2 linked regions of the Homo sapiens genome follow. The protein of the gene in region 1 purifies or fractionates together with the protein of each later gene. This does not show direct contact. Each region holds a gene or a part of one and is shown on either strand. Other genes may lie near its edges.

What was found. The genes of interacting proteins can lie anywhere in the genome.
Region 2: the proteins of AP1M2 (region 1) and AP1G1 purify together in Homo sapiens (affinity purification with mass spectrometry; 6 studies listed by BioGRID and IntAct, with this or other methods). This does not show direct contact.

The regions. Positions count from the first base shown.
Region 1 is NC_000019.10:10,574,098-10,578,641, reverse strand, and holds part of AP1M2 (AP-1 complex subunit mu-2), read left to right. Parts: intron 1-1,285; coding exon 1,286-1,444; intron 1,445-3,612; coding exon 3,613-3,738; intron 3,739-4,149; coding exon 4,150-4,225; intron 4,226-4,544. UniProt on the Homo sapiens protein: Subunit of clathrin-associated adaptor protein complex 1 that plays a role in protein sorting in the trans-Golgi network (TGN) and endosomes.
Region 2 is NC_000016.10:71,749,241-71,754,713, forward strand, and holds part of AP1G1 (AP-1 complex subunit gamma-1), read right to left. Parts: intron 4,648-5,473; coding exon 4,593-4,647; intron 1,093-4,592; coding exon 970-1,092; intron 744-969; coding exon 654-743; intron 1-653. UniProt on the Homo sapiens protein: Subunit of clathrin-associated adaptor protein complex 1 that plays a role in protein sorting in the late-Golgi/trans-Golgi network (TGN) and/or endosomes.

The sequences.
Region 1 (4,544 bases):
AGGAGGAGGTTGTAGTGAGACAAGGACTCTAGCCTGGATGACAGAGCTAGACCCCATCTCCAAAAAGAAAAAAGAAAAAAAAAATCTGTTATCAAATAAAATAATAACTCTCCTGTGATGGACTGAAGGGTTTTTTTGTTTGTTTGTTCGTTTGTTTTTTGAGAAAGAGTCTCCCTCTGTCACTCGGGCTGGAGTGCAGTGGTGTGATCTCAGCTCACCGCAACCTCTGCCTCCTGGGTTCATGCCATTCTCCTACCTCAGCCTCCCGAGCAGCTGGGATTACAGGCTCCTGCCGCCACGCCTGCCTCCATCTCCCCAAGTGCTGGGATTACAGGTGTGGCCCACCACCCCCGGCTTTTTTCAACAAGCCTTTCATATGCCCTCTCAGCCCAGGCCTCCACAATCCTAAGGTGGGGACCCTTATCCTGTCCATTTTACAGATGAGGAAACTGAGGCACACAGAAGTTAAGGCATTTGCCTGCAGATACACAGCCAACAACTGTTAGAACTCAGGCCCACACCCATGAGGCTCGAGAAGCCCTGTTCTTGGTGCCTTCCATGTGGACAGCACCATACACCTTTGCCTGATTCAAAATGACCCCTTCAGGCTGGGTGCAGTGGTTCATACCTGTAATCCCAGCATGTTGGGAGGCGGAGGCAGTAGGATCACCTGAGGTCAGGCGTTCCAGACCAGCCTGACCAACATGGAGAAACGCTGTCTCTACTAAAAATACAAAATTAGCAGGGCGTGGTGGCACATGCCTGTAATCCCACCTACTTGGGAGGCTGAGGCAGGAGAATTGCTTGAACCCAGGAGGCGGAGGTTGCCGTGAGCGGAGATTGTGCCACTGCACTCCAGCCTGGGTGACAGAGAGAGACTCCGTCTAAAAAAAAAAAAAAAAAAAAAGGCCAAGCATGGTGGCTCACGCCTGTAATCCCAGCACTTTGAGAGGCCGGGGTGGGCGGATCACGAGGTCAGGAGATCGAGAACATCCTGGCTAACATGCTGAAACCCCGTCTCTACTAAGAATACAAAAAAAATTAGCTGGGCGTGCTGGCGGGTGCCTGTAGTCCCAGCTGCTCAGGAGGCTGAGGTAGGAGAATGGCGTGAACCTGGGAGGCGGAGCTTACAGCCAGCCGAGATCGCGCCACTGCACTCCAGCCTGGGCGACAGAGTGAGACTCCGTCTCAAAAAAAAAAAAAAAAAAAAAAAAAAAAGGGCTTGGTAAATATTTGAAGGATGAGCAAGCGAATTCTTCGTGCCCCATGCTCGCTCCCCTGACAGGCCAAGGGGCAGTTTAAGAAACAGTCAGTGGCCAACGGTGTGGAGATATCTGTGCCTGTACCCAGCGATGCCGACTCCCCCAGATTCAAGACCAGTGTGGGCAGCGCCAAGTATGTGCCGGAGAGAAACGTCGTGATTTGGAGTATTAAGTCTTTCCCGGTAAGTACCAGGGACTGGCGGGGGATCTGGGGGTGGAGGGGACTGGAGTAGTGTGGGGGCTGCCCAGGAGCCATGAGAACAAGGCAGAGAACAAATCAGAGACCCAGTCAGGTGTGATGGCTCATGACTGGAATGCCAGTACTTTGAGAGGCTGACACGGGCAGATCGCTTGAACCCAGGAGCTGGAGACCAGCCTGGGGAACACAGTGAGACCCTGCCTCTATAAAAATATTAAGAGGAGCTGGGCGCAGTGGCTCACGCCTGAAATCCCAGCCTGGCTAACATAGAGACGGCTAACATCCGTCTCTAGTAAAAGTACAAAAATTAGCTGGGTGTGGTGGCGCATGCCTGTAATCCCAGCCACTCGGGACACTGAGGCAGGAGAATTGCTTGAACCCGGGAGGCAGAGGTTGCAGTGAGCTGAGATTGTGCCACTGCACACTCCAGCCTGGGCAACAGAACGAGACTCCGTCTCAAAAAAAAAAAAAAAAGATTAAAAGGCCAGACATGGTGGCTCATACCTGTAATCCCAGCACTTTGGGAGGCTGAAGCGGGCAGATCACCTGAGGTCAGAAGTTCAAGACCAGCCTGGCCAACATGGTGAAAACCCGTCTCTACTAAAAATACAAAAATTAGGGCAGGGCACGGTGGCTCACGCCTGTAATCCCAGCACTTTGGGAGGCCGAGGTGGGCGGATCACGAGGTCAGGAGATCGAGACCATCCTGGCTAACATGGTGAAACCCCATCTCTACTAAAAATACAAAAAATTAGCCGGGCGTGGTTGCAGGCGCCTGTAGTCCCAGCTATTTGGGAGGCTGAGGCAGGAGAATGGCCTGAACTCGGGAGGTGGAGCTTGCAGTGAGCAGAGATCACGCCACTGCACTCCAGCCTGGGTGACAGAGCGAGACTCCATTTCAAAAAAAAAAAAAAAAAAAAAATTAGCCGGGCATGGGGGTGTGCGCCTGTAGTACCAGCTACTCAGGAGGCTGAGGCAGGAGAATCACTTGAACCCGGGAGGCGGAGGTTGCAGTGAGTTGAGATCACGCCACCGCACTCCAGCCTGGGTGACAGAGTGAAACTCTGTCTCAAGAAAAAAAAAAAAACTTAGAAAAAAGAAATACAAGGCCAGGCGCAGTGGCTCACGCCTGTAATTCCCAGCACTTTGGGAGGCTGAGGCGGGCAGATTACGAGGTCAGGAGATCGAGACCATCCTGGCTAACACTGTGAAACCCCGTCTCTACTAAAAATACAAAAAAAAAAAAAATTAGCTGGGCGTGGTGGCGGGCGCCTGTAGTCCCAGCTACCGGGAGGCTGAGGCAGGAGAATGGCGTGAACCTGGGAGGCGGAGCTTGCAGTGAGCCAAGACCGCACCACTACACTCCAGCCTGGGCGACAGAGTAAGACTCCATCTCAAAAAAAAAAAAAAAGAAAAAAAAAGAAAAAAAAAGAAAAAAGAAATACAAGTAAATCAGAGAGGTACGTATGTATGCAAGTGATCAAGCTTGAAACCAGGCCAGTCTATTTCACAGACGTGTAAACTTCCATGACGGGAAGTGTGTGGATTTAAATATCCCCCTGCCAATGTCTTGAGGAAACCAGCCCTGGGTTCACCTTCCTCACTATTGCTTTGCTGAGCTGGGTGGGTTTGGGAAACCCATTTCCACTTAAGGAGGCTCAGTTTGCCTGTCTGTGAAATGGGCAGGATGAGGTGACCCACATCCCTTGGCTACTAGAGGTTTTGGTTTGTCCCCATGATCTTGGGAGAGGTGGATCATCAGTGCCTGTAAAACAGGACATGGTAGTTAAAAAAAGAAAAAAACCCTGATTGGGTTTTGCAGTCAGAATCTTCCCTGGTGAGTCTCTGTCACCCAGGTTGGGGTGCAGTGGTGAGATCATGGCTCACTGCAGCCTCAAACTCCCAGACTCAAGGGATCTTCCTGCCTCAGCCTCCCAAGTAGCTGAAACTGCAGGCATGTTCCACCGCACCCAGCTAATTTTTAAACTTTTTGTAGACATGGTATCTCAATATGTTGCCCAGGCTAAGGAGCCTTTATTTTCCTGTCTGTGAAATGGGCTGTGAGCAGATCTGACTCCAGGGGTTGCTGAAAGGAAGGTCTCGGGAGGGTAGGCGGACCCTCGTGTACCTGATGCCCCCATGTTCCCTCAGGGGGGCAAGGAGTACTTGATGCGAGCCCACTTTGGCCTCCCCAGTGTGGAAAAGGAAGAGGTGGAGGGCCGGCCCCCCATCGGGGTCAAGTTTGAGATCCCCTACTTCACCGTCTCTGGGATCCAGGTGAGAGAAGCAGGCAGGGAGGATCCTCCCCTTGACTTCGGTGGGTTCCCCTCTCTCCTGTCCCTTGGCTCGAGTCACCTCAGTCCCCTGGCCTGTGTCAACACTCCTCTGAAGGCTGCCTGGTCTTTCCCAGAGCAATGTTACCTTTATCTGCCCACAGCCTGTGCTCCCTCTCCCCCGGCCTGTGCCACCTTGTTCCCCACCGGCTTGTTCACTTCTGTCCCTTCTCCACCTCCAAAGCCATTCACCATTCCGTTGCCTGTGCCACCTCATCCCCCTAAGACCATGTGATATCCCCTCATCGATCCCAGCCTGTGCCACATAGCCGCTTGGCCTAAGCCGTCTCTTTCTCCCTGGCCCTGGCCTCCTCCCTCCTGCAATCCTGGACCACCTCTTTTCATTCCCTTCCAGGTCCGATACATGAAGATCATTGAGAAAAGTGGTTACCAGGCCCTGCCCTGGGTTCGCTACATCACCCAGAGTGGCGGTAAGGCAGCCCAGCTCCTGGGGACAATGGGGTGAGGGAAAGGCAGTGGGTAGGGACTCGAGGCTTTCACCACATTCTGGCTCAGAAAACCAACAAGGGTCAGGTGTGATGGTTCAGGTGTGTAATCCTAGCACTTTGGGAGGCCAAGGCGGGTGGATCTCTTGAGGCCGGGAGTTCGAGACCAACCTGGCCAACATGGTGAAACCCTGTTTCTACTAAAAATACAAAAATTAGCCGGGTGTGGTGGTGTATGCCTATAATCCAAGCTACTCAGGAAGCTGAGGCAGAATTGCTTGAACCCGGGAGGTGGAGGTTGCAG
Region 2 (5,473 bases), on another chromosome or scaffold:
AGAGGCCAAGGCAGGCAGATTGCTTGAGTCCAGAAGTTCAAGACCAGCCTGGGCAACACGGTGAAACCCTGTCTCTACAAAAAAAAAGTAGAATAAACTAGCCAGGGTGGTGCCTGCCTATAGTCCCAGCTACTCAGGAGGCTGAGGTGGGAAGATCGCTTGAAACCCAGGAGATCAAGGCTGCAGTGAATTGTGATCCCACCATGGCACTCCAGCTTGGGTGACAGAGTGAGACTCTATTAAAAAAAAAAAAACAAAAAACCTCACAATGGCTCAATAAGTTCCATCTCAAAAAATGGCAGGTTTTCCAATATAATTCGCGTTTGCTTCTTTAAAAAGTTGGGTATTTTTTAAATTTTTTTGAGACAGGGTCTCACTCCTGAGTAGCTGGGACTAGACACCATCATACCTGTCTAATATTTGTGTCTTTTGTAGAGACAGAGTTTCACCATGTTGCCCAGGCTGGTCTCAAACTCCTGGGCTCAAGCGATGCTCCCATCTCAGCCTCCCAAAGCGCTGGGATTATAGGCATGAGCCACCACGCCTGGCCTAAAAAGTTTTCAAGGAATCAACCTCAACTCCCCATTAAACACTACTCTCCTATAACCAAAACCACTATTTTCCCCCACTTAACCAAGAGTGACAAGGAGTACCTGAATAGGCTCTTCCTCTTCACACTGGCCAGATACAAGAAGATCACCATATTCACCTATACACCATGCAGCCACTTGTACCAAAGGTTGCTGTGAAAAGAAAAGTCAACGTTTCTCAAGAACTTCAATTTTTCCAAAGTTATTTAATGCAAATCATAGGTCATCTCATAATAAAGATCAAAACTGTGCATATCTAGAGTGTTAGAAATAAAGACATACCAAAGGGGAGAGAGGAGGGGGGAAAAAAAAGAAGAAAAACATACCAGAAAAATTGAGGGTAAAATTACCCCCTAAAATAGTTGAATGAAGTACTTACTTGAGAATAATCACCAAGAATTGCTTTGTACAGGCGCTGGACAGTATAGGCATGCATCTCCACACTATTAGTTATTAACTGGATTAAATTGGGGACTGCATCATCACGAACATAACTTCCTGCCTAAAAGGAAATGCAGACAATTACCCCTAGAAACACACAGAAATGATGATAACAAGTGTTAGCTATTATTATTACTGTGTGTTTTTTCCTTTCTTTTTTTGAGACAGAGTCTCGCTCTGTCACCCAGGCTGGAGTGCGATAGCGCGATCTTGGCTCACTGCAACCTCCACCTCCCAGGTTCAAGCGATTCTCATGCCTCAGCCTCCCAAGTAGCTGGGACTACAGGTACATGCCACCACACCTGGCTAATTTTTTCTATTTTTAGTAGAGATGGGGTTTCACCATGTTGGTCAGGGTGGTCTCGAACTCCTGACCTCAGATGATCCACCTGCCTCGGCCTCTCAAAGTGCTGGGATTACAGGCGTGTGCCACTGCGCCCAGCCATTACTATTGTTTTTAAAAGAAGAATACCAGAAAACACCCTCAAAGATAAATTTGGTTCCAATTCTCAGGTTCATAACAGCTCAAACTTCAAAGTCTTATTTAAATATGTTACATTTTTAAATTTTATTTTATTTTTAAAAATTTTCTCTTTGTCCAAAGGCCGGGTGTGGTGGCTCACGCCTGTAATCCCAGCACTTTGGGAGGCCAAGGCGGGTGGATCACAAGGTCAGGAGATCGAGACCATCCTGGCTAACACGATGAAACCCCGTCTCTACTAAAAATACAAAAAATTAGCCGGGCATGTGGTGGGTGCTTGTAGTCCCAGCTACTCAGGAGGCTGAGACAGCAGAATGGCGTGAACCCAGGAGGCCGAGCTTGCAGTGAGCCGAGTTTGCGCCACTGCACTCCAGCCTGAGCAACAGACTGAGACTCCGTCTCAAAAAAAAAAAAAAAAAAATTTCTCTTTGTCCAAATTAAAAAAGGAAGGCTGGACACAGTGGCTCACACCTGTAATCGCAGCACTTTGGATGGCTGAAGCAAGATGACTGCTTGAGGCCAGGAGTTTGACACAAGCCTGGGCCACACAGCAAGACTCCATCACTACCAACAATAATAATAATAATAATAATAATGTAAAGGTTTAAAACTTTATCACCCAACCTTGGTCAATCTCCCATTCCTAAATAGAACAATAGATTTAATTTGTAAGACTGAGACCAGTCCTAACCATGTGTATTTTGGAAAGGAAAAAAAAGAAAAAAAAAAAAAAACAGCCAGGTGATCAGGGTTTTATCAGGTCACTCCTGTTAAGAAACACAAAGACAGAGGAAGAATTCTGGGAAAATGATCAGAAGGAAAGGTGAGAAGCTAAAAAGCAGGTAATTTGCAGTATAGTTTATTTACATCCTTCCGTAAAGCAGAGTGCATTAAATACAAGAAAGCATCAGGGTGATCTAATGGGTTTGTATAATAAGACTACTTCATTCAACAGCAGCAGAATACACATTTTTCTTAAACTTACACTGAACCAAGAAAGACCATATTCTGGGTCATAAAAAATATCTTAACAAATTTCAAATAACATAAATCATAGACAGTATGCTCTTAGACCACACAGAATTAAACTAGAAATCTGCAACACAAAGACAGGTGCAAAAAAATCCCAAAATATTTGGAGATTAAAAGAACATACTTCTAAATAACACATGGGTCAAAAACAACATTATAAGAGAAAACTATAAGCCAATCTCTCTCATGAATACACATATAAAAATACTCAACAAGATATTAGCAAATCAAACCCAACAAAGTTATAAAAAGAATAATATACCCTGACCACGTATTCCAGGTATGTAAGGCTGGTTAGGCATTCAAATATCAATGTAACCCAGCATGTAACAGGCTAAAGAAAACAAATCACATGATCATAAGAGAACACAAGTCAGTTAGAAAAATAAAATCAGGGGCACAAAAAAAAAGCTTTTGAATTCTCATAAACACTTTCCTTCAGGAGTGTTAATTTCTCCCTTCTTTTGAGCCTCATGAAAACTAGGAAAACATGTCCTGTTCATCATTATGTTAATTACATTTTGTTAGATTATAATTTTTCCCCTTGCTAATCAAATTTATTAACTTTTAACCTTTTACCAAGTTAATTCATTGTAAGTAAACTAAAAAACGAGTATGCCCCAGAGAGAATTCCACAGCAACAAATACATATACATATAAGTCATAATTTCATAAGTCAACAAATACATATAAGTCATAATTTCAATGATATAATTTTCTCCCTACAGATGTTTCATAATTTACTTAATCCCCATTTGGGGACTACTAGTTGTTTCCGGTTTTCTCCTACTATAAACAATATTAGGATGAATACTTTTACATACACATTTTTGTGTACTTGTCCTATTATTTTTTCAGGCTAAAGTCCTAAAAATTGAATTAATGAATCAAAGGGTACAATTTAAGGCTTTTCCTACATGCTACCAAACTGCATAGTAAAAAGATGGCATCATCCTATACTCCCATAAAGTGAAGAGTACTGCCTGTTTCTCTATTTTCTAACACTGGGAATTAGATTAAAAAATACGAAATGTGAAAAATGATACCTCAATTTTACTTTATTTCTTTAATAAGAAAATTTTTTCAAATGTTAATTAGCCATTTCTTTCTTCATGAATTGCTGGTTCAAATACCAATTTTTCCATTAGAGTGGTATTTCCTATCAATTATAAATTATTCATAGATTGAATATATTAATATGCTGTCATAAGTTAATGTTTTCCCCAGTTGTTAATTTGCCTTTTAAATCGTAGACTGTTCCCCTTTTTGTTATTCAATTTTTAAATTTTAATATGGTTAAATTTGTGGCTTTTCCTTTACAGTAGCTACTTCTAGTGACTTAATTAATGGAAATGGTTTTCTTTACATGTCACTGCACTTTCATTTTTACTCTTAAATACCTAATCCTTGCCTACTAATTGAATAATAAACACAGAAACCCTGAATTTCTGCAAGAATGCCAAAGAAAGGATCCCATCCAAAACAGGATTTCAAATCCTGAGTAACTTTAGCCATTCAAAACCCTGCAATGGCTTCCTAACATATTCAAAATAAAATGCAAGCTCCCATGAGGCCTACATAGTCTGGCTCCGCTTATGTCTCTGACATCCATCCTACCATTCTCTGCCTCTCTCACTTTATGGCTTCACTTGCCTTCCTGTTGCTCTCCAAGCAAGCTATGCTTGTTCCTACCTCAGGTCTTTGCACTTAGGGTTCCCTCCGTATGGTACACTATTCCTCACGATCTCTGCATGGCTTGCACCTCATGTCTCTTAGGTCTCTACTCAAATGTTATCTCCTCTGAGAGACCTCCCTGACTAACTCTAATCTAAAACACTTGGCCAGTTGCCCTATATCCCACCTTATCCTGCCATCATTATATTCCTCCATGCTGCTTTAGGTTTTTCTTCATGGCATTTATTCCTAACTGACATTAATGTTACCTATTTACTTGTGAATTTCTTACCTCCCTGACTAGAACATAAACTTCATGATAACATCAGTATATCCCAGCACTTCGTATATGCTGTCTGAAAGAAGCTACTTACCGTTGTCAAAACACGCATAATTGTGTCTATATGCCATCGTTTGGAAGGTGCATACCTGAAAAAAACAATGGAAAGGGACACTTGGAACCAGTAAAATATACCGTTTTCAGTGACTAGAAAATCCTGCCCAAGCAGGGTGACTCACACCTGTCATCCCAACATCTTGGGAGGCCGAGGTGGGAGATCACCTGAGCTCAGGAGTTCGAGACCAGCCTGGGCAACACGGTGAAACTCCATCTCACCAAAAAATACAAAAATTAGCTGGGTGTGGTGGTGGGTGCCTGTAGTTCAGCTACTCTGGGAGGTTGAGGTAGGAGGATTGCCTGAGCCTAGGAGGTTGAGGCTACAGTGAGAAAGAAGAGAGAGAAAAGAAAGAGAAGAAACAGAAGAAAGAAAAGAAAGGGAAGAAAGAGAAGAGAAGAAAGAAAAGAAAGAAGGAAAGAAGATGGAAGGAAAGAAGGAAGGAAGGAAGGAAGGAACAAAAAAGAGAGAGAAAGAAAAGAAAGAAAAAGAAAGAAAGAAAGAAAGGAAGGAAAGGAAAAGAAAGGAAAAGAAAAGAGAAGAAAATCCTGTCCTACAGTCTTTTCTAGGTTCCCTGGATAAGTGAACATATCTGGAAACATTTCAACTTCAAATCTAGCAGCAAATGCCATTTCAAAGAGTGATAAAAAGGTATACAGTCAACTGACTTCAGTGGCTCATGCCTATAATCCCAGTACTTTGGGACGCCAAGGAGGAAGGAGTGCTTGAGGCCAGGAGTTCCACACAAACCTGGGTAACATAGCAAGACCCCATCTCTACAAAATAAAAATTAAAAAATTAGTGGCACATGATGATTTGCAGCTACAGTCCCAGCTACTCAGGAGGCTGAGGCAGAAGGA